Homo sapiens: one gene and its partners. The protein of the gene in region 2 purifies or fractionates together with the protein of the main gene of each other region. This does not show direct contact. Each region holds a gene or a part of one and is shown on either strand. Other genes may lie near its edges.

Evidence for each region.
Region 1: the proteins of SLAMF8 (region 2) and ULBP2 purify together in Homo sapiens (affinity purification with mass spectrometry; one large-scale study listed by BioGRID and IntAct). This does not show direct contact.
Region 3: the proteins of SLAMF8 (region 2) and ITFG1 purify together in Homo sapiens (affinity purification with mass spectrometry; one large-scale study listed by BioGRID and IntAct). This does not show direct contact.
Region 4: the proteins of SLAMF8 (region 2) and NRBF2 purify together in Homo sapiens (co-immunoprecipitation; one large-scale study listed by IntAct). This does not show direct contact.
Region 5: the proteins of SLAMF8 (region 2) and DSG4 purify together in Homo sapiens (co-immunoprecipitation; one large-scale study listed by IntAct). This does not show direct contact.

What each region holds. Positions count from the first base shown.
Region 1 is NC_000006.12:149,943,960-149,947,877, reverse strand, and holds part of ULBP2 (UL16-binding protein 2 preproprotein), read right to left. Parts: intron 2,570-3,918; coding exon 2,306-2,569; intron 1,507-2,305; coding exon 1,225-1,506; intron 559-1,224; coding exon 449-558; 3' UTR 427-448; exon of another isoform or gene 422-426; intron 1-421. UniProt on the Homo sapiens protein: Binds and activates the KLRK1/NKG2D receptor, mediating natural killer cell cytotoxicity.
Region 2 is NC_000001.11:159,824,595-159,830,325, forward strand, and holds the start of SLAMF8 (SLAM family member 8 isoform 1 precursor), read left to right. Parts: upstream 1-2,278; 5' UTR 2,279-2,304; coding exon 2,305-2,344; intron 2,345-5,271; coding exon 5,272-5,598; intron 5,599-5,731. UniProt on the Homo sapiens protein: May play a role in B-lineage commitment and/or modulation of signaling through the B-cell receptor.
Region 3 is NC_000016.10:47,450,205-47,455,261, forward strand, and holds part of ITFG1 (T-cell immunomodulatory protein isoform 1 precursor), read right to left. Parts: intron 3,955-5,057; coding exon 3,809-3,954; intron 2,587-3,808; coding exon 2,529-2,586; intron 1,267-2,528; coding exon 1,192-1,266; intron 1-1,191. UniProt on the Homo sapiens protein: Modulator of T-cell function. Has a protective effect in graft versus host disease model.
Region 4 is NC_000010.11:63,135,265-63,140,321, reverse strand, and holds part of NRBF2 (nuclear receptor-binding factor 2), read right to left. Parts: intron 1-5,057. UniProt on the Homo sapiens protein: May modulate transcriptional activation by target nuclear receptors. Can act as transcriptional activator (in vitro). Involved in starvation-induced autophagy probably by its association with PI3K complex I (PI3KC3-C1).
Region 5 is NC_000018.10:31,385,577-31,390,276, reverse strand, and holds part of DSG4 (desmoglein-4 isoform 2 preproprotein), read right to left. Parts: intron 3,590-4,700; coding exon 3,458-3,589; intron 1,911-3,457; coding exon 1,755-1,910; intron 1,404-1,754; coding exon 1,259-1,403; intron 1-1,258.

The DNA of each region.
Region 1 (3,918 bases), on a different chromosome or scaffold from region 2:
GGAATCCCCCTTCCCCTGTCACACCTCATGTAAAGCTACCATGATGCACCTAACCCAATTAAGAGGACTGCCCATGTCTGAATTCCTGCTGCCTGCAGGCCACACACCCTTCCTGAATAGGAACCTGCTCTGAATCAGGCCTGAACTTGCTAAACCTTCTCAAGCTCAACAGACCCTGAGCCTTGGTATGGGCCCCTCCCTTTCCCTCTGGACTCTGAAGGTGAGAATCCATCAGAACTCAGGGCTGAGCTGCCCAGGTCATTGCCAACATTGCCAACAGGCAACACAAGGTCTCATTCACCTGTCTCATGTTAGGATGAGAAGGTCCCAGCCACGGGGAGGGGCGGGACTCCGGGAATTCTCTTTCCCCATCCTGCCTCCTCACCCACCTGCTCCTTGCTCCACTTCCAATTCTGCCCACAGTACCTGTCACTCTAAAGGACTCTCCTCAGATGCCAGGGAGGATGAAGCAGGGGAGGATGATGAGGAGGCAGCAAAGGATGAGGGTGGTGGCTGTGGCCCTGAGTTGGGTTGTGCCTGAGGACATGGCGAGTGGTGCTGAAATGGAAACACAAAAGTGACAACCCTTGTCCAGGCCCCAAATCTGAGGAGACACCTCCTCAGTTCCTGCCACCCTAGGTCATCCTGGAAGGCAAAAGTTTTGTCCTCTCCCCCCTGGTGTGGGGCAGCCAGTATGACAGGTCCTGGCTTAGGAAGGGAGACGGGGTGAGTCTTGTCCTCAGGGAGCTCACACAGCTGCTGAGGGAAGCAAGGTGACAACACACCCCACCCTCCTGCTGTGGGGGAAGAGGAGGTGATGCCCCAGAGTTGGGGAGGGGAGGATCTCTGGGCTGGCGTTGGAAGTGGTTTTGATGGATTTCCAGAACCAGACCAGGGAAAGGAAAGGAAAAGTGATTCTCAAAAGAGGAAACACTAAGGAAAAAGGTCTGAAAACAGTGACACCTGCAGTTTCAAGGCTGGTGAGAAATCCACAGGGCGGGGAGCAGGAGCAAGTGCAGTGAGGAATAGGAGTCAGGAGGGAGAAGGAAGAGGACGGTGGGAGAGCACAGGCATGCCAGTAACCCCAGGAGGAGCGCCCCACGAGGAGGTCATTTTAACGTGAATGTGTATACTGGGATGATTGAAGCTGAACTCAAGAACTAACTTCTTGAGGTCACCATTTCTGATCACATTTGAGATCCCCGTTTCTTTTTCTCCTGTTACCTCCTGCACTTGGCTCCAGGGTGCTGTCCATGCCCATCAAGAAGTCCTCAAGCCATCCTATACAGTCTCCCATTGAGAAGTAATGGAAGGACATGGCCACAACCTTGTCATTCTCCCACTTTTCTTTCATCTTTCTGGCTCCAGGATGAACCGTTGTCCACATTCTCTTCTCTGAGTCAAAGAGGAGGAAGATCTGCCCATCGAAACTGAACTGCCAAGATCCACTGCTGTGTCCTTCAGCTTTCTGCTCACAAGACATCCTTGCCTGCAGGGTGAGGGGTTCTGCCCCCATCAGAGAGAGATCAGCTCTGATCTTGACAAATTTTGCACCCCCATCCTGTTCCCCTTACAATTTGCTGGCCTTACTCTCTCTGCTACATCTTGGCCTTGCCTCTAGACTCTTGAGGGGTATGATGACCTTCCCATTTGTATTTTTTTTTTTTTTTTGAGAAAGGGTCTCGCTCTGTCACCCAGGCTGGATGGAGTGCAGTGGCGCGATCTCGGCTCACTCAGCCTCCTAAGTAGCTGGGACTACAGGCGCCCGCCACCATACCCGGCTAATTTTTTGTATTTTTAGTACAGACAGGGTTTCACTGTGTTAACCAGGATGGTCTCGATCTCTTAACCTCGTGATCCGCCTGCCTCAGCCTCCCAAAATGCTGGGATTACAGGCTTGAGCCACTGCACCTGGCTTTTTTTTTTTTTTTTTTTTTGAGACAAAGTCTCACTCTGTTGCCCAGGCTGGAGTGCAGTGGCACCACCTCGGCTCACTGCAGCGTCTGCCTGCCGGGTTCAAGGGATCCTCCTGCCTCAGCCTCCCAAGTTGCTGGGATTACAGGCATGCGCCACCATGCCTGGCTAATTTTTGCATTTTTGGTAGAGACAGTGTTTCACCATGTTGGTCAGGCTGGTCTCGAATTCCTGACCTTGTGATCGGCCCACCTCTACCTCACAAAGTGCTGGGACTACAGGCGTGAGCCACCGTGCCCAGGACCCTTTTGTATTTTTACATGAAAACTATAAATGCCTCTAACCTACCACTGTATCTGTTCCCTGCTGTCCTGGGCCATCTGAAACTTACCCTTGGGTGTGTAATTCTCCAGCTGAATGTCACGCAGTTGCTCTGTAAGTATGTCCACCACCTCTCTCAGTACTGGGTTCTGTGCTTTCCAGGCCGTTGTGACATTTAGTTTCTTCCCCAGGGGACTGACAGGTGTGACTGTCTTGTTGCCACAGTCATAGTGAAGAAAAGTCTTTTCATCCACCTGGCCTTGAACCGCACACCACCGTGGTCCAGGTCTGAACTTAGGGATGACGGTGATGTCATAGCAAAGAGAGTGAGGGTCTGTGGAGAAAGGCAGGTGAGGGGTGGGTGGGGAGGAAAAGACCCCTAGTTAGCCCCCCTCCACGCTGTGTCAATAAGAGGATGCCTCTGGCAGGCTGGGCTGGCCCAGGAAGGAGTGCCCCCTCCAGAACTGTGGTGTCTACAAGTTTAAGGCGAGTGCTCGCCCCTTGCATGAGGACAAGGAGGAGGAGGAGGAGGAAGTCTCTGTCTGCTGAGAAACCACATGTCCCCAGACATGTCCCACTGCCCCTCTGCCCACATCAGTCAACACGTGACCTTGCTAGAAAGGTGCCAGGCCTCTCTAGCAAGAGAGGAGGAAGGGCCTGGATGGCAGAGGATCTTCAGCAGTAGCCCACGTGGACTGCGGGAGGTGGGAGAGGGTGTGGGTCCACCCCTGTGGATGCTGGTGCTGGTTGAACAGAGTGAGGATGGAACCCCGTTGGATAAAGAAGAGTTAATTATCATGGCCACAGGATTTAACATGTTGGCAAAGCCCCTGGTGATGGCATGCATCTGCTATGAGGAGGCCTTCCTGAAACCTTGGACAAAGAGATGGTCCACACAGCAAGAAATGGAAAATCTGAAAGTCTAAGGCAGGTAGTGGAGGGAGAGATCACAGGCTCAGAGAAGTGCCCATGCCAGAGGGGTCTAAGTGTGAAAATCCAGAACAATGTCCATCCACTGTGCTTATGGGAAACCTGGAGGACTCCTGTTTACCCAGCATATAAAGAAGGCCCCATGAGAAGGCACCAGAATGGAATGAAGCTTAGGGATGCCTATTGCTGAAGGCCAGGGTTGGGGGTAGGAGATGCTGTTCCTGAAATCTGCTCCCAGAGTAATGGGATGAACAATTCTGAAATTCCAAATTCCAGGTGGAGGCTGTCAACTGTCAGGAGCAAGGAGGGTGCAATGATGGAAATGATTAGAGAAGTCACAATGCCAGCTGGGGACCTCAGTTATACAAAGTTATGCCCATGGCTCATAGAACAAAGGGGTCCAAGGTCCAAAAGAGATGCAAACCCACCCCAGATACTGCTGGATTTAAATAATTACAAGAAACAGAGATAAACCAAATCAGGAGGCTGAAAGTAGCCAGTCCATCAAGAACGAGGCTGCTTTGCCTAATTTGCAGAATGAAGCCACTTCTCAGACCCTGAACCCATGACTAGAAGAAGACACCAGTTTCTAGTGAGGAAGGACCCTTTAACCCTGCAGCCAGGACAGTGAGTCCTTGTGGCCTTCTCCAAAGATATTTATGGCCAGTAGAGTTTGCTGTGAAGGGCAATTTTGTAAACATGTAAAGGTGTGCAGGGAATATATTCTCCATTGTAACTACTCAACTCTGCTGT
Region 2 (5,731 bases):
GGCAGGGTCAAAGGTGTCCTCCGGCTCTCACAGCCTCCAGGGCACACATCTGACATTGTTCTTGCTACACTGGTTATAATTATTGGTTTATATATACCATCTTCTGTGAACTCCTTAAGGTCAGGGGCTGAGCCTTTCATCTCTGTGTCCCTAGGTCCTGGCACCTAAGTAGATGCTCAATAAATGCCTGAGGAATGAATGACGGAATTGGCAATGGAGTCGTAAATGAGTTCCCTCCCTTGCCCTCTCCACCCCCATGACAGGCAGCTTCCCAGTTCTGCCCTTTCCTCAGTACTCTAGACATTTCCTTCATATGCAGTCCCTTCTCCTTCTCACAGGACCATCACAACAGACAACAGCTGTTGTTCAGGTTCCCTGGCCCCTTTGTTCTCTCCAACCTGCCCTGCCTGCTGTCCTCCCACTCCTACTTAAAACATGCAACAGCCCCTCTCTTCAAGCAGTGCTTCCGGAGCGGTCCCCCAGTCCACCAGCCACAGACTCACGCTGAGTGGGGTGCTTGTTACAACCACAGATTCCTGGGCCCTAGCTCACCCTGATGGCATCTCTGAGAATCCAAGTGCTGAACACAGTTGAGAGCCACTAGTCTCCAGAAGAACTTAACCCAGTTTTCAAGGCCTCCACAATCTGCCCCCAACCTCCTTTTCCATTCTTCCCACCCAGCCCTAAAGGATTCCTGTCTGCTGTCCCTTGTCCTCTGTGGAGCCTACTTGGTATTTTCCCACAGCCACATCCCTGCACGCTCTGCTCTCCCCTCCTGCCCAGAGCCCACCCCCAACCTCTGGCTCTCTCCTTTCCTCATATTATCTAAACCATGCCCATCTTCAAGGCACAGCTCAAATTCCACCTTCTCAAGAAGCGTCCCCTGCCCAGATCCGCGAAGCCCTCTTTCCCACCCACTTCTGAGGACTGACTACCTGTTTGCACAAAGTGGTGTCTGTCTGCAGATAACCCTTCACTTTCCTTGGTGTACCTATCTCTACATTTTGGTTGTGAGTACCTGGAGGGCAAAAACCTTATCCCAAAATCCTCCTGCTCACCACCCACCCCCACCCCATCCTATATGCCTAGTTCCTGGCTGAGTCCAAAGCTCAGTGTCCAGTTTGATTGACAGGCGAGAGGCTGTGCAGGACCAGATACGATGAGCCACACTCCAGACTAGCAGGAATTTTCCTCAGGGGCAACACGTCCTCTAAAAACCTTCACTGGCAAGAAACCAAGAAACTTGAAGTGAGAAGAGAAACAGGATGAGGAGGGGATAACTGTGGCAAAATAGACCACACTTCAAAGGCTGAGGTTCAAGTTCCAGCTCTGCCTCTCTGTGAGCTCTGCAAGGGGCCTAACCTCACTCTGGTTTTCACATTTTCCCATTTCTAACCAGGTAACAAGATGATCCTCTCAGAGGAGAGTTGCAAGGCTTACATAAAGCCAGATGTGTAGCCATGTCTAGAATGTACTCACTCACTTAACAAATACTCATGAAACATCTGTAATGTGCCAAGCACTGAGGGCAACACAGAAGGGAACAAAAGACTGGCTAAACAGTCTGTGAAAACCAGAAAACTGTCATCAACAACACAGCAAGAGTAAAGAGGGAGGTGTGGGCATGCACAGGACACAAGGAGAGGGCCTCTCACCTGCCTGTGGTCAGGAAGCCTGGAAGGATGTCCTCGCCGACTGCACAGCCATGTTCTGTTTGCAAGGATAGAGGGAGCAGCATGCCTAGTCGGGGTGGTGGGGAAAGTACAACACAGGGAAGTGTGAAATCAGTAGTTCTGAGAAGGAGGCCTTCTGGCTTGGGATGGCTGGAGGGCAGAATGACTGTGGGCGACCAGCCTGGAGAAGAAGGCCTGACTCAGGAGGGCCTGCATGCAGAGCAGAGTTAGTCCTCATCCTCAGGTCCACGGGAGGCCACAGAAGCATTTTAAGCTAGAATGAGGATGACAGATAGTAGTGAGGCAGGCTGAGATGCAGGAAGGCCAGCGAGATCCAGCAAGGAGGATGTGGCTTGTGTGGGGGCTGTTGTCGCCACGTGTTAGCCAACCATGTGCATGTGAAAGAGGCTGACTTACAAGAATCTGCTCCTGTAAGCCCAGAGAGGCCCAGGGACAACTTCCACTTTATTCTGGATGTTTTCACTTTTGGGACATCCTGTTCTGAGTCAAGATTCCTCCTTCTGAACATGGGACTTTCCAGAAGGACCACAGCTCCTCCCGTGCATCCACTCGGCCTGGGAGGTTCTGGATTTTGGCTGTCGAGGGAGTTTGCCTGCCTCTCCAGAGAAAGATGGTCATGAGGCCCCTGTGGAGTCTGCTTCTCTGGGAAGGTAAGTGGGGCAGGCAGATAGCCTGTCCTCGGAGAGCTGAAGGCCCCTCCCCAGCTGCCTATGCCAGACGTCTGGGCAGGGATCCCTCGACCTGGGTGAGAACCCAGAAGCTGAGGGTGGGTAGGAAAGACTAGAACAAGCTCTTGGGCAACATTTTAAGCTAGGCAGATACAAAGAGATGCAGGGTCCTGGGAGGGAGGAGGTGGCAGCTTGAGGGGTATTCTTATCTGTGAGACATGAGCTGTTTTGTGGCCCAGAGCAGTAAAAACGGAGCCAGTGGGTGATACTGCTGGTTTGGAGAGAAAGTCGGCTGTGAGAATGGTGAGGACCCGGCAGTGTTAGCATGCAGAAACTCTGCAGAGTTTGAGGAGAGTAGCAGAGGGCAGGGCAGAGCAGGGTTCCCCACAATCAGCAGAGTGTGTTTTCAACAGCCTGTGGGGGAGCTGAGGTCCCTCCCTACAGGCCTTTATAAGGGGAGGCAAGTACTAAGTAGGGATGAGAGAGGCTAAATGTGGCCCACGTGGACTTAGGGGTGGCCGACGGTGGTGTGATGTTGGGATGGCTGATACACGGGGTCTCCTCCACACCGGGCGATCCCTCTATCCATCTGATGCCTGAGTTCCCTTCCTTGGTCAACAAGCAGCCAACATGACATGGGTCAACACTGCCGGGCCATGGATGAGGGTTTATGGGGTGCAGCAAAGATTAAGATGATATTGTTTACATCAGAGGCTCATAGGGACTTTGGGTTGCTTTGTTTCATCTCCTTGCCTGAGTTCCTGGCCCTGAGAGCTCCAAAGCCTGCAGATTTCTTCAATATTTCTAAACATGTGCAGGAAATCACACCTTAACCTCAAAAAAGGCCTTGGTCTGTTTGGTGAGACAAAAATAATTTGCCTTTTTTTTTTTTCTTTGAGACGGAGTCTTGCTCTGTCACCCAGGCTGGAATGCAATGGTGCATCTCAGCTCACTGTAACCTCTGCCTCCTGGGTTCAAGCGATTCTCCTGTCTCAGCCTCCTGAGTAGCTGGGATTACAGGTCACTGCCACTAAACCCGGCTAATGTTTGTATTTTTAGTAGAGACAGGGTTTCATCATGTTGACCAGGCTGGTCTCAAACTCCTGACCTCAAGTGATCCGCCCTCCTCAGCCTCCCAAAGTGCTGGAATTACAGGCATGAGCCACCACACCCAGCCCAAAAATAATTTTTCAAATGGCCCTTAATGATCAAAGATCTGTGTGACTGACCTGGTACAGACCCCTTATTTTTCAGTGGTACTGAAGCCTGGGGCAGGGTGATGTGTGGAAGGGCACACAGCTGATCTGTGGCAGCACCAGGAGGAGCAGGTAGGAGCAGCTAGGTCTTGGCTGACATCCAGTGCAATTCTCTTTGTGTGTTACATTCCTGCTCTGCATTAACACTGAAGTCATCTCCAGTGTGAGAGGAGGTTGTTGGGCCTGGAGGACAGTGAGGCAGAGGGGGACCGGAATTATCATGGCCGACTGAGCAACCATCCAGATCATGTCTCATTGACCAAAACTTCATCACCTCTTATTCTTCCCTACACCCTGTGCCAGCGACAGGCATAGGGTCAGTCCTCAGCAGGGTAGGTCATTTATTCAATACCATTTACTAGGCTTCTCCCACAGTCTGTTCTTAAACAGTGGTGGGCACTGGAAGCAAACGATGGGGAGAAAGAGCTCACGGTCTAGTGGGAGATGCTGACTCATAAACAGGCAATAAGAATAGAGGGATAAGGGTAGTCAGCATGGTGGCCCCAGGCCACTGTGAGAACACAAGAGAGAATATGTAACCTCTCTTGGTTACATTACCTATGAGGGATAGGGGAGGTCGGAGGAGGCAGTGATGCTACAAGAGTGGGCAGAAATTAGTCAGCAAAGGAGTCAGGGGGGCACTTCAAGGAGAAGCGTCTCCCATACACGTCTGACTCAAATATAGTCCCCCAAAACAGCATCTTGCTTTCTCACCCCCTGTCTGTTTCTCCTCCTGTTCTGGATCACAGAGAATAACATCCAGTGGATCCCAAGGACCTGGGAGCCGTCCTCGACTCCTTTTTCTCCTTCACTCCCCAGAGCTAATCTATTACCAAATCCTACTGATTACACACCATCTTCGTGTTTCTCAATTCCTCCCACTTCTTCCCATCCCGGTTGCTCCCTTCCTCAATTCAAGTTGCCGTCACTTCTCCACTGGACTAACATGAACAGCCTAAGTCCTGCCCACCTCCAGTGCATTCTCCACATCCCTGCTGGAGTGATCTTTCTAACCATGCATCTAATCCTGTTACGCTCCTGCTTAAAACCTACCTGAGACGCCCCATTGCTCTACAGATAAAGCCCAAACTCCAGTATTGCTTTCAGGTCTCTGCATGATCTGACTCCTACCAACTCTGCAGTGTAATTTCCTACTCCTCACACAGAGAACTACTCTCAGTTCCCCTGGGCACCAACTCTCCCCCTCCAGGCCTTTGTCAGTACTGTGCCCTCTGCCGGTGACACTTCCCTATCCTGCTCCAGGCCGCCCTCGGCTTGGCCTGGCTGATTCCCATTCCTCTTCAAGGCTCAGCTTAACAATTTGTTTTCTGAGCCCATCAAGGCTGGGTGAGATCCCCTGTCACCCTACCTGTGTTCTCCCAGGGCATCTCATTTTTCCCTTCATGGTATTTAACAGAATTCATTTTTATTGATTTCTTGAATGTCTGGCTTCCTCTGTAAGTTCCATGAATGCAGAGACTGGGGTTATCTTCCATATGTTTTATCCCTGGTACCTAGCACAGTGCAACCTCAACTTGAGTGGAGGGAATGTCAGTGGAGGGGCCCCAATTCACCCTATAGCAGCTCAGATGCATGCAAAGAAGGATGAGGAGTGTGGGGCAGGCAGAGTGACCAGGGGCTCTGTTCTTTCAGCCCTACTTCCCATTACAGTTACTGGTGCCCAAGTGCTGAGCAAAGTCGGGGGCTCGGTGCTGCTGGTGGCAGCGCGTCCCCCTGGCTTCCAAGTCCGTGAGGCTATCTGGCGATCTCTCTGGCCTTCAGAAGAGCTCCTGGCCACGTTTTTCCGAGGCTCCCTGGAGACTCTGTACCATTCCCGCTTCCTGGGCCGAGCCCAGCTACACAGCAACCTCAGCCTGGAGCTCGGGCCGCTGGAGTCTGGAGACAGCGGCAACTTCTCCGTGTTGATGGTGGACACAAGGGGCCAGCCCTGGACCCAGACCCTCCAGCTCAAGGTGTACGGTGAGTGTGTCTGACACTGGCTGCCTGGCCCTCTTCCCCCACAAAGCACCAGACGAGCATCCTGAGTCATAGCAGCCAGGGAGAGCTGGGTTCCAGAAAGCTCTGGTCTCTGACCATGTTGCCGACTCAGGGA
Region 3 (5,057 bases), on a different chromosome or scaffold from region 2:
TCCAATTTGTCTCTAAAGCAAGACTCTCTTCAAGATATTTTTCAAATTTTGGAGAAAAAAACAGGTTTCTCATTCAGGATTCACAATAATTATTTCAAAGTTCACTATTACTAGCATCAAAGCACCCATATTCTTTATTAAAAACCTACAGAAAAAGTAATAGGTGATCTCCCATCCAAGCACTAACCAGGTCTGACCTTGGTTAGCTTCCGAGATCAGAAGAGATGGGGCGCGTTCAGGGTGGTATGGCTGTAAACCAGAAAAAGTAATAGGAAATGTTAAAGTGTCTCTTCAGAATACCTTAAAAATTTTCACAATTTACTCCTCTGCATACCTACAAATCACATTTCAAAAATGAATCATAAAAACAAACTATTTCTATAAAACACAAAGAGAAAAGTCACTAGAGTTCCAAGTAGCTGGGAAAGACAGATTGATAAGGGTGGTCCTTTGTACTTTCAGAAAGACAAAAAAGTAAATAAATGTGTTCTGTACTCTTGAACTAAACTTTACCTTATCAGATACAGAAAAAAAATTAACCGGGTTGAAGGTATCTTATGAAAAGTATCTTGCTATCAGGAATTCTTGTGCTACGAGACCAGTTCTATTTAAATCCAGAGTAATTACAATGGATATCTTGGAATTGCAAGATTCCAGGCACTTTTCCCTAAGAATTGCATACTTAGATAGTAAGAGAGGCCTAGCACACATACTGGTGAAGGACAATGTATTCACTGACAAGTTTCCAGAGCTTAGAGGAGTGCTTATATTACTAGACCGTTATTGACTGCTCACTGAACAAATGACAGAAAGAAACAAATCTTATCAATTAAAGTCTAGCAGCTAACATGACTAAGGTACTAAGATAGGGAGGATCCACTCAAGACTGCAGGTATCCTCCCTATTTACGTGAAATCTATCCATTTCAAAAACATTTAATGAACCAATATTTAAATGGGGACCCGTAAAGTTTCAATCTCTAATTTTTCAAAGAGATAAAAGGAGTAAGCTGGCCCTTGGAAAGCAGGTGCAGGCCAAATCCAAACTATTTGAGAAAGCTTATATATATTAACCAAATGCCCACTTAAAAATCTTTAAAAACAAGGATTCCAATGAGCTATTTTTTCTCCAATGGTTAAAGTAGAAGCAATATATACGATTAATTACATAGTTATAACCATATTTACTCACCCTCCTAATAGTATCTGTGGCTGGTTGGATTCATTTGTGATACCAAAAATATCAGGAATTAGATCACCATTGAAACTGAAAAAAAATTAAAACAATAAGCAGCTATTTCTTTAAATTCTTACTTCTAATTTAGCTTTAAAAGAAGCAGTAACTTTTGGGAAGTGTGGTAGACATTACAATGCTCGCCAGTATCTAGTGATAAGTATTAAGTCAAATGTCAGCACAAGTGACATGTGTCACTTTTAGGCCAAAGTGTATAATTTCTGTTACCAGCCCCTCCAGCCCTCTCCAGGCTTGCCATGGCAATGAGAAGGCATTGTGATTCAGATGGACTAGCTACAAAGACAGTGGGCTCTCTGATGGCCTGACTCTAAGCAACAGCACAGAGCAGAGCCTGTTGTTGACCCACACTGGACATATAGTAAGAGCAAGAAATAAATTCGTTTTGTGAGATTTTGGGTATCTCTGTAATCTTTGCATTATCTAGACTACCCTTGAATGATAAGGATACAGCACTAATTCCTAGAAACTTACTTCAGAATCCTAAGCCAACTTGTTTACTTAGATGGGCTTAGGAGAAATAACCTAGAAAAATAATCCTAGTTGGTATAAAACTTCATACTGGCCATTGAATATTTTAACAACAATGAAAAAATACACAACTATGAAAGAAATCTAGCGGGGCACCGTTAAGAAGATTAATCCATGGATTTACAGTTCAGACTTCTAATGGCCACTGACACACTGCTGTATGGGTATGATTTTAATAACTGTAAGAAAGACAGTACTGGAAACAAGAATGTGGCCAAACTTTGCTCTAGTCCCGGGAATGATCTCGACCTCTACCAAAATACGCTGTCAGAAATTTGCAAATCCAAATTTACATCAATTATTTAAATCAATTATGCTGGTACATGAGTCTACAGTGAGAATATAAATGATAACACAAAGCAGGAGTTATATTATAAAAAGAACAAAAATTTCTCCTTAATATAGGAATCTTTCTAAATTTCTAGAGGAAACTGTATCCTAAATATCAAATATAACAGTTTTACTCAAAAACAGGTATCTTAATTCTTTCAGTAATGACAGCATAGATCCATAATGGACACATTTGAAGCGACTGAAATAAAAACACAAATCTCTTCTACTTTCCAAAATAATAAATTTCATTTTTCTTTGTCCTATCTGATGGCAAATAAATACAATATAATCAAAGGTACAGGCCTCTGAGTGAATTTAGTATTTTTATTACTAAGCAAAGTAGTTTCCTATGTGAAGATTTTATTTTATGTTTAAGTTTAAAATCGTTTCAAAGGAAGCAAGCCCATACTTACTCCATAATTAGTGGCTCATCTTGAAAAGTCCTATTGAGTATGGTCATATTGTTAGGATCTGCAAAAAAGATATATATATATATGAATTAGCAGGCATTTTATATTACTTTTGATATCTATGCTTAGGAAAAAATATTCTTCTACTCTTTTCTAGATTTATCTCTGATTTATTCCAACTATTATCATTAATGAGATACTATAAATCTAGTTCAAATGAACATCAAGCTTGCAAAGACAAAATATTGGGAGAATACATTCTACAGTGAAGACTAGCATTACAATAACCTCCTTTTGAGGTATGCATCTAAATATTTGCTAGCTGAGTCTTTGTCTTTACACAATTTAGTGCTAGAGAGGTTGACAATTAACAAGGTTTTGGTGTAAAGAAGGCCACATATGCAAAACTTCCTGGTTCTAAAATGTACATGCTTATATACAAGCTTTGTGCATGGTACTCCCTCTGTAAATATTTATTGACTTAATGAATATAATGTATCGCGATTACTGTTTACATTCCCAAATGGTGCAGAAAACATGACTGAAATTTGGCTCCATGAACAAAGTTGCCTATTTAGGTATAACTAATTGGCTTTTCAGATAAGGCTTGATGATTTGTGACTAGGTATGGTAGACTGACTCTCGAACCATACTTCAACTTTTTTGTGCTTTCCTGTGCTAAGGAGACTAGAAACCAAAAATAGCATTTTCCAGATATTGTGGCATCTGAGATGCTGAATAAAAGTTAAGCCTTGCCAATCAGATACACTGTGAGTCTTAAAGGCATGAATGAGGTAAAGGCTGTTTCTCTGCTATTTCTATCTGTGTCTGCTCACTGAATTTGGGAGTATCAAGAGACCAGGTGCAGCATTCATTTTGCTAGTGAGAATCACTGCAGGCACAGCATCATTCTGGCAGCAGTTGTGTAACTAGCCACTTCTGATAGGGGAAAGAGGCAGTAGCTTTTTTGATGATATTGGGATTGCTCCTGAAAGCTCAACCTAGAGTTTATTCTTTAGCCATCTCAATGATTCTGTGAGCCACTAAAATCCTTTAATAAATCTCTGTCCTCTTTAAGCTAGTAAGAATGAAGTTTGTCAGTAGAAGTGATCCCTGCCCAGTTCAGGGTTGAAAAAGAAAAATCAGGAAATAAACTTTGAAAAAAGGTTTTACAATTATTGACACCCAAGAACAGTATTTTTGAACTGATTTCAGAACAATATTTTGTTACATTTACCTTCATATTCAATGATAAATATTAAAAATTTTTAAAACAAATTCACCTAATGTTTGATTTTGTCCCCAGAAGATAACAGCTCCTAATTCACTCTTGGCATAATTTTTGGGAAGATATGTCAGAAGGACATCCATTTGAGAATCTCCATCATAATCCCCAGGGACTACACTTGTTATCAATGCACTGTGATTCCTAAAAGAAACAAGCATTTACAAATATCAGACAAGTTGTAATGGAAAAGGACAATTCTGTATTTCTACCACACAAAAATATTTTCAATGAAAAACTTAAAACTTAACAGAACTGACTGATTGCCTTCTCTTTCCTATCTTTTCATCCATCATGTATTTAGACCTCTTTGGTCTAAAAAAGAGTTCAGAATGAATGCAGAATAGTCTCAAGAAACAAGACAAATCTGAAATATGTCGAGAGAAAACGTGTTTATTATGTTCAAGCAATGGCTAGTATAGCCCTTCTATATAGTTCCTTTGTCAAGGACACCAAGACATTCGGATGGTGTTTCTAACAAATGGAGGCTCATAATTGCCAAAGCAGTAAGCATTATCACTGGGATGTTTTCAATTAAAAGATATTATTTATAAAATATTTAGTTTGGATTTTAACATAAATTCAAAATTTACAGTAAAAATTAAAAGAATCATTTTATTTCTGAAAGCTAGTAAATTAAGAATGGAATTTTTTTTAACGAAACTTGGCAATCAATATAGCATCCAAACATATATATCTAACTTTATATGTATATTTTTATTTTTTCCTTTTCATAGGTATTGATATATTTTTATTAACAAAATAATTCTAAAATTATTTATATGAATCTTGAAAGCTTAACGTCCTGCAGTCTTATTATCTGAGCGACCCAAGCAAAAATTAGGCCTTTAATTCATTTTATACTTAATTCTACTCAGATGAAATAGCAAGACAGCAAATTTCCAATTAGACTATAGATAATTACTTTCTTAATGCATCAGTGGTAGTTCTTTCTCCCTCTCACTCAGCAAGGTAAGAACCAAGTGGTGTATTTCTGGAAAGTCTCAGGAATTAAGGATTTAAATTACAGTAATGGGTAAGGTTTTGGCCTTAAGCTAGACACAGGAGTTAACCAAAAGTCTACAAAAGGAACAATTTAACCCTTGCCCACAGCTCTACCCTATTTCTAGAATGTTAGTCTGTCAAGAACATACATGCAGGGCAAAAGATAGTAGACTAGTCCCACTAGGCAATACATTTCCAATTATTTCTTTTGCACCTTACTTGAAAATGTGAGTAGACACCTG
Region 4 (5,057 bases), on a different chromosome or scaffold from region 2:
ACTTCCCACATTCTTTTTTAATTGCTTGATGGGTTACGTTAGATTGAGGTCTACAGCTGTGGTTGCCCATCATTTCTGACAGATGATTCGTTTTGTAAACAGCTGACATAAACTTATGGTATTGATAACTATAGTATAGAACTATATTTTCTCTTCCTTATGATTTCCTTGCTGTTTTTTTTGAGATGGGGTCTCATTCTGTCACCCAGAGGCTGGAATGCAGTGGCATGATAACGGCTCACTGCAGCCACAACCTCCTGGGCTCAAGTGATCCTCCTATCTCAGCCTCTCAAGTAGCTGGAACCACAGACATGTGCCACCATGCTCAGCTATTTTTTTTTTTCTTTTGGTAGAGACCGGTTTTCACTATGTTGCCTAGGCTGGTCTTGAACTCCCGGGCTCAAGCAGTCCACCTGCCTCGGCCTCTCAAAGTGCTAGGATTACAGGTGTGAGCTACCATACCAGGCCCACATTGTTGTATTACCTTGTCGTCTGGATACCTAAAGAATCCCTTCTCCAGATTTTCAAACTTAGGAGCAGACAATATGAAGAAAGTCTAATTAATGTGACATTCAGAGGCTAGCCAGGTGGAAATATAGGTCTGCAGAAAGGAGGAGTGAAGCAGACAAGCCTGAAAAGGCAAAAAAAGAGAGGGAGAGTCTGATTAAGTCGGACTGACAGGCTCTATACGGTCATAAACCAAGCTACATTATACCCCTGCCCTTCCTGCACCTTTCTTTGGAGTCCAGTAAATTATCTCTTTTGGCTTAAGCTAATTTCAAGTGGGTTTTCATCAACTACAACCAACAAAAATCCTAACTACAACAACTAGGTTACTAAGTGACTGCCATCACTGACAAGTACCTTTTACTTCCACATGCTAACTGCTTCAAAAATACATGTTCAATACTACCCTCTTTCCCAAAAGAAAACAGTATTACTTTCTATTATTTTTTTCTGTGTCCTTGGGGAAAGCTGTTAAGTAAAGATGAAAAGAAAAGGAACACCAGGCCAGGCGTGGTGGCTCACGCCTGTAATCCAGGCACTTTGGTTTGGGAGGCCAAGGTGGGCAGATCACGAGGGCAAGAGTTCGAGACCAGCCAGACCAACGTGGAGAAACCCCATCTACGCTAAAAATACAAAAATTAGCCAGGCATGATGGCACGCGCCTGTGGTCCCAGCTACAAGGAAGGCTGAGGCAGGAGAATCGCTTGAACCCCGGAGGCGGAGGTTGTGGTGAGCTGAGATTACGCCATTGCACTCCAGCCTGGGCAACAGAGTGATACTCTGTCTCAAAACGAAAAAGAAAAAAAGAAAAGGAACACCATATGAACACAGCACTGAAAAGGCAGCAGAGGAAAATCTAACATACACCTGACCTTATGGTAGGGTCTTCAGTTGAAAGAGAAACCTCACTCACTCCCCCTTTCCCAATCAATGTGCGTCTCCTACAAACAAGTAGCAAACAGTTATCTCAAATCAATAAGCACTGAATTGACTAAGTAATATAACGCAATTATACTGAAGATAAGCGCTCAAGTGTTGGAGAATTCCAGGAAAGACTTTTTTTTTTTTTTTGAGACAGAGTCTCGCTCTGTCGCCCAGGCTGGAGTGCAGTGGTGCGATCTTGGCTCACTGCAAGCTCTGCCTCCCGGGTTCAGGCCATTCTCCTGCCTCAGCCTCCCGAGTACCTGGGACTACAGGCGCCCGCCACTGCACCTGGCTAATTTTTTGTATTTTTAGTAGAGACGGGGTTTCACCGTGTTAGCTAGAATGGTCTCGATCTCCTGACCTCGTGATCTGCCCGCCTTGGCCTCCCAATTTTTTTTTTTTTTTTTGCGACAAGGTCTCGCTCAGTCGCTCAGGCTGCAGTGCAGTGGCGTGAGCTTGGCTTACCACTATCTTCACCTCCCAGGTTCAAGCGATTCTCCTGTCTCAGCTTCCCAAGTAGCTGGGATTATAGGCATGTGCCACCACACCTGGCTAATTTTTGTTTTGTTTTGTTTTTTGATACGGAGTTTCACTCTGTCACCCAGGCTGGAGTGCAAGGGCGTGACCTTGGCTCACTGCAACCTCCACCTCCTGGATTCAAGCGATTCTCCTGCCTCAGCCTCCCAAGTAGCTGGGATTACAGGCACCCACCACCACACCTGGCTAATTTTTGTTTTTAGTACAGACAGGGTTTCATCTTGTTGGCCAGGCTGGTCTCGGTGACCTACCCACCTCAGTCTCCCAAAGTGCTGGGATTACAGGCATGAGCCACTGTGCCCAGCCCAATCTTGCCTTCATATCCTACTATCACCACTTACCCTGCATTTCAAAGTCTTCATCTTTAAAATAGGGGGAATATCTCATATTTAGCTATTAAGAGGAAAAGATAAAAAATATACATAACGTGCCCGATGCCAATCCTACCACTTAGCAATAATTGCTGGATATCTCTTAGTACTCTCTACCTCCTTTTTCCAGAGTGCTTTCATTATGCCTAGCTCAGCTTGTGACAAAGAAATTTTCCTTGGAATTTTTCAGGGCAACAAAGAAGGGGTTCAAATTGCCTCTTTTTACCTTGAAGATTTTAAAGCCAATATAATTAAAATGGGATAGGTATAAGGACTCCAGGTATGCATAAGGCCATTCCTTGGACCATGATATCTGACTACTTTTCTTACAGAAGCTGGAAAGTAAGAGGCTTCATTAACTACCTCATGTGATGTGAGAACTGACCACTCTGGAGGGAAGCTGTTACTCAACAAACATTCTCAGCACTCTTAAGGGCTAAACACATAGAAAACGATTGTGGCCAGGCAGTCACATGGACCCTGCCCTTTGCAGCAGAGGTAAGCAAAACATGAGCAACAGCCACATATAAATTAAGATCTGACATCACTTTCCAAATCAGCAGCAAACAAACCAAAGAACTAGAAATTATCTCACAAGAGTTTTGACATTTGTTACCAGTAGTCACACTGACAAAATGTGTACGGAAAGAAATATCTAAATATACACTAATTTTATAAGTTATAATTTTTCCATATTTAAAACTGACAGGCTGGGCACAGTGGCACATGCCTGTAATCCCAACACTTTGGGAGGCTGAGACAGGAAGATTGCTTGAGGCCAGGAGTTCAAGACCAGCTTGGGCAACACAGCAAGACCCCATCTCCACAAAAAGTTTTTGAAAAAATTAGCTGGGCATGGTGGTGCAAACCTGTAGTCCCAGCTATTGTGGAGGGCTCAGGCAGGAGGATCCCTTGAGTGTGGGCAACAGAGTAAGACCCTGTCTCTTAAAGAAAAATTGACCAAAAAACCCTAATGAAACAAAGTTATTCAGAGTGCAAAGACTAGCTATTTTTTTCTTCAGTGGAAGTACAATTTTTCTTTTGACAAACTTCAATAACCAGATAATTAGAATCCATTACCTCTGTGGTACATATTAAAATGAATATTTCAAACTAGTCTCTTCCAGATCTTAAAAATTCACTGTGAGGAATTTCTAAGGCCCTTACTGCCAAACCTAACATAAAAGAATCAATACTGGAGCAGAGGTAATAAATGCTAACACAGAATCTACAGTTCAATATAGATGAGAACCATACTGAAATGAACATGATGAGTACAATATGGCAGCATTGCTAGAAAGAGGTCTTGATATCAAAATAACTCGTGATTCATAATGTATTTAAGTTACTGACCTAAGTAATTACCTAATTCTCTCAGCTTAGGCTTATTTATCTGTAAAACTGGAAAACACACCTTACTAAGTTCCGAGGATGCTCTGAGGACACATGATTACAAATCCATGTACTGTGATAAGTCCTTATACAATGAATTTGGACTACACTACGACGTCATTTGACAAAGCTTATTGCATTAGTAACTCTCTGAGTATAGAAAAAGAAAAAGCTTGTATAATACTAGTGGAATTTTCAAAGACATTCAAATTATAGCATTGAGAACTCTCATCTTGAGTCAACTAGATACTAAGTTAGGTGTTCACTGACATAAAAGAATGTCAGAATTTTCATAGCCGGGCAGGGTGGTGCATGCCTGTAATCCCAGCTACTCAGGAGGCTGAGGCAGAGAACTGCTTGAACCCGGGAGGTGGAGGCTGCAGTGAGCCCAGATCGCACCACTGCACTCTAGCCTGGGTGACAAAGCGAGACTCCGTCTCAAAAAAGAAAAAAAAAAAAAAAAAAAGTCTGAATTTTCAAAAACCTCATCTTATAAAACTGTGAGTGACAATTCTGAGTGCCAGAGGCCTGTAATTGGTACTCATTCAAGTAACCGTCAACGTCTGTTCTACTGTTACCTTCCAATAAACAACTATGCTGGAAATTAGATCTTTCAAGACTCAAATGGTTTAAGAATTCAAGGTGTCCGCCGGGCACGCTGGCTCACGCCTGTAATCCCAGCACTTTGGGAGGCCAGGCGGGGGGATCACGAGGTCAGGAGATCGAGACCATCCTGGCCAACATGGTGAAACCCCGTCTCTACTAAAAATACAAAAATTAGCTGGGCGTGGCGGCGCGTGCCTGAAATCCCAGCTACTCAGAAGGCTGAGGCAGAAGAATCGCTTAAACCAGGGAGTCGGAGGTTGCAGTGAGCTGAGATCGCGCCACTGCACTCTAGTCTGGTGACAGAGAGAGACTCCATCTCAAAAAAAAAAAAAAAAAAGAATTCAAGATGCCAAATTTCTGATACTTGCCTACATAAATTTTATGGCTGAAATACGGAGTTACGCTAGCCTGCTTAAAAAGACTCTGTCGAAACTCGCTCCGTTTTATGGAGGAGAATTTAAATGGTATTGCCACCATTTAACTAATTTTTCCTGAACTGGTAGTGATTCTGCAGTTCTATCTGCAACTGTCACCCAGTTCTAGTCTCCTTTTAAAACATCACACATTCGTGGGGCAGTTGGCGGGGGTTATTCTGCAGCCAAATAATGTGAAGCTAACTAGAACTGAACCAATGCTCATTTGGCAAGGACACCTGAACTCTGAAGCACTTCGTAAACAGCTGATTATTTCTAGTAATACTCCTGTGAAGTTTCAGTATTG
Region 5 (4,700 bases), on a different chromosome or scaffold from region 2:
GAAAATTATAGTTTAATTAAATGCAACATTATAATTATGTATTGAACACCTATATTCTTAATTGCCACTTTTCCAGAAAGCAGATAATTACTCTTGGTTGCATTGGAAGATAGCATTTTACCAAACAGTCACAAATTTATAATTATTGAAAAGAAGACTTGTCCATAGCAATATAAGAAGTTCCTAATTACTCATAGGTAGAAAGAACAGGTATCTTAGGCAAATCCCCAAGGATGTCAATCTACAGGACAGACTTTTCAGAATTGTCAGGTCCCTGATGTTCTTTTGCTTCCTAGGCAGGGAGACTTGGTTGTGGGTTTCACCTTCTCTTCCTTCACCAGTGTTGTTTTGAGGTGTGTTGATGAGGAAGCAAAGATGGACTTCGGAGTCTCTCTTTGTGTTGGCTCTCCTAGGCAAAATCTCTTTGCCTCTCTATGGGAGGACTATCCTAGTTCAAAAAAAAATTTTGTGTTTATCTGCCTTTTTTCCTGAAATTTATTTTTCCTATTATTTCCCCCCAAATTTGTTTAGAGGTATATGGGCAGACATAGATTTGAAAGGGAAAGGGACAACAGGGGTTTGGGGAACAAACTGATATTCATGTGCTGTATGTAAAATCAAGGTCAGAAGGCAAAGGGAGAGGAGAGATAGGAAAGTAGCCATATAAGAAAAGCATAAGAGTAGGAAGGAAAGAAGTTCAGGAGAATTAATATAAAGGAAAGACAGAGGGTATTAGAACTGGAAATGGAATTAAGTGGAATGGAAAGAAATGAAAGAAAATGAGAGAATAGAATGTAGTTTGCTATGTAGTCTGTGAAGATCAATGATTACCCTTAGTGATTGATCTGATGGGTACAATTGCGTGTGCTTCCACCATCACGCTCTACCTGGTGTGGGTCAGCCAAACATTTTGAGTAAGAGACCAGAACAGAGCCTTCTTAAACATTCCTGGTTTATTCCTCAGTTTGCTCGCTTGGATTTAGTTCTTCATGAGCCCAGTAGCAATCTTTAAGCAAGGTGCTAAGCACCTGCTAAATCCCTGTAGGGACCTTCCGCAAGTAAGAAGATATTTTATTTTATCATTTTAGACATGATTTCTTTTTCTAGCTCAGTTATAAATTAAAATATGTGGGGTTTATTCAAAATACAAGTGTGGCTTTTTCTGTCCTTTACATTTCCTGTATGTCAGTCCTCTAAAGCTTTTGACCAAGAGAAGTAGATATGCTGTGACGTAGAGAAGGAATGTCATTCTACTTACTGGCATCACTATTTTCTTCAATGCTGGCTGTGTATACACTTTGCGAAAAGACTGGAGCGTTATCATTTATGTCCATAACTTTGACTCTAAGCTCAAGAGGCCTTTCTAAATCTTCACCCCGTGAATTCAGAGCCCGGCAATAGATCTGTGGAAAATTGGAAAAAAGCCATCTTTTTCCACCAAAGGAATTTTAGTAACATGCTTGAAAATATATCAGAAAATAGGCAAAGAAACAATTTTTTCCAGTGAATTCAGACTGTAGTACAGTCAAATAATTTAAATATGATCAGGACACTTGACTACATGTACATGCAACATACCAGAGAATCCTGAACTATAAACTTTTATTTTCACACTCTTTCCATTCCTTCAAGTCTTCTATTTGGGTTCAGTCTGCCATGTTTTATCAAAAGTAATCCATTATCTTAAGATAATATTTTTTGAAAAAGGGAAGAAAACTAATATGAACAAATCAAAACATATGGCTATGACTTACCAAGAAAAGTGGAGTTATTTCTCTGTCTACCACTGAAGTGATGTTAATTTCCCCAGTGCGAGGATTAATGGTGAATACCCCATATGGTGGTCGATCAATCCCTACTCCAGAAATCCGGTATGTTATCTTCTGGTTCGATTCGCAGTCTGATCGAATCTATAAGAAAAATAGCTAGGATTGTGATCCAGTTTAGAGCAGATAATGCTTAAGAGTGTAGTGGAATAAGAAGGGAGTGGGTTTCTTTACCAAATGGGCTTTGGATTGAAACCTGACACCATGACTTAGTCCTGTGTGACCCTGGAAAATTTACTTAACTTTGCCCAGATCAGCTTACAGTGGGGATAATATCACACAGATTTGTTGTGGGAATTACATGAGGTAATGTGTATAACATACACACTTGGTGCTAGGTTTGTTGTTAATAACACATTGTTCAATTCTCTGATTTTTTAGCATACGCAGAAATAGCTTCACAAAAGAAATTACAACATTTACTATTTTTTAAAAATAACTTGTGTCATATTAATAAGTATCCTACCTAAGCTGGAGTCTGAGATTTAGTCAAAATGGTAGATAAGTTGAGAATATCAGAAAACTATAATGGTTAGAGATATTTGTAATAATTTTATAAATGTAAACATACTGCATCACTTTTCTGCCAAATAGATTTTATGGCAAATATTCTGCCACACAGATTTTGCTTTAGTAGCTTTATTACCTATTGCTGATAAATTTAAACTGAAACAATTTTGAAATCTCACCTATATACTAACGATAAGAGCATTCAGTAAAATAGTAAGATTTTTTACCCACACATTCACAGTCAAATAAAGACTGCTGGAAATAGAACTTTGGTTAGCTTAACTCTAATCCAAAGGCCCTTTTTACATAGAAGAAAACTCAAGAACCTCCCAAAATGCAGAGAAAAAGAAAAGAATATGCAATATAAGTGGAATAACATAAAGCAATTACTGAGTTGAATGGAAATAATAATTTAAAAGCGTCCCTCCAATTTGAAAACATCTGAGAGAGAATACATCTGTTTTCTTGAGCTGAGGTTGTATCTGTAACACCACTGCTGATGCTTACTATGTTTTTAATATAAAGCTGGAAGGAGGGAATTCTGCAGATCACTTTACTGTTCAGGATCAAGATGTCCAGAAAGAGTGAATGAAGCTATTAATGTGGATCCCATCCTTCCTGGATCAATTTATTACACATTCTTTAACTCTCCTTCCTTTTCAGTAGGCATTATTTGTGAAAGTCTTATAAGACTCTCTTATTTTCTGGATGTAGAGATCTGGTGGGAACTTTTGATACTATCCTTACTTTCCTGGAGTTAATTCATCTAGTGCAGTAAACTTGGCTTGACTTTCTGGAGGGCCAGGCTTCAGACTGTCACTATGTGAATACGTTTCCTATGACATTGACAGGCAATAATGAGCAGTACACAAATGGATGAACAAAGCCCAGTTGTGCTGGAGATCCAGCCCTTTCTTCTAGAATCACTTGCCATTGACTGCCTGCCCCACGTCAGCCTCCCTGCACATGATATTCAAATCAGTGGCTCAGCAACTGGAGCAAATGACCACATTCTGTCTTCTTAAATAACTGTGGAGCAGTGAAGCCTGCAAATCTTGGAGATATTTGAAAGCTTCCCTGCTCTGCAAAAGCATTTGTCATCAGATTGCTTCATCACTTACTTTGGCAATGGGGTTCCTCTTCGAGTTGTCCTCTCCTTCTCGACAGGCTGCGGCAAACTTGATCCACTCCCGCTTTTGTCTTCTGACTGTTTGCCATTTTGTAGTGCCATTTTCAATGTCAAATTCCTTCACCTTAAGCAAAAATGGTTCAGGTGTCTTACAGTGTGAGAACAATTTTACTTAGAAAGGACATTTATTTAATATTGTAAGGTGCATTTAGAAGAAACAGTGATATTGAATTTGAAGAACAGAGAATGTTTTCACCAATTCACAACTCTGGATAGATAGATAGCTTGGTTACCCCTGGCTGCCACTTCTTTTGGAATCATCTTGGTTCCAATTATTTGATTCTAGTGAAACAAATTTAATTAGCTACTTGAGGAGCTCATGATGTGCCATACTGTATAAGTTGTGCAGTTTTCCTTTTCTCAATCTATCTTCACCATATAGGAGCCTTGCCTATCTCACCCTTCATTGAGCTTTCACCAGAATTTACAGACTGCAGAGTTTAAAGATTATCATTGTTCCATGTATGCACATCCCATATAACATAAAAGTTGTGCTGGTGAGTCGTGCTCACCTAAAAGAGAGAAGAGCATTTTTCTCTTCTGTTGATAAGGACACCACTGTGGCTAAGCACCCAAGTATATTTTTGCAGAATTAGAAACATATTATTAATATTGGAGGAATTGATGATTCCTCCAATAATCCCATGGACACCTATAAGGCTTTGCAATGCTGTCATTTGTATCTGTGCTTGCTATATGGTTTTTCTTTCGTAGCCTTAAGTTGCTGCTATTGATGTATACTTAAGAATTTCATACTATTAATGAGATTAGAAATGTCACTACATGTGCAAGCCTATTTGTATACATGCATAAACTATATATATGCACGTATTTATTTTTGTAAGTCCTAATGTACCCCCTGAAACACAGGTGATTATAAGTTTACTTAGGCTAAGCTTCATTTAATTACCACTTTGGGGGAAGGAGGTGTTCCACTGAATGAAGCATATATTACAACCAGAGTATTTACATTATTTCTCCATTTTGATACGACTTACTGAAATGTACCACCTATTCCCTATTTCACCAAAAAGATGAGAAAACTTTATTTTTTCCAATGATTTGAGGGGATCATAAGGAAAATTTAACTATTATAATAAAATAAAGCTCTGCCAGAGATAGAGGACAGCAGCTCTATTTCCTGAGTTCTACTCTAAATGGCACTAGATTATATG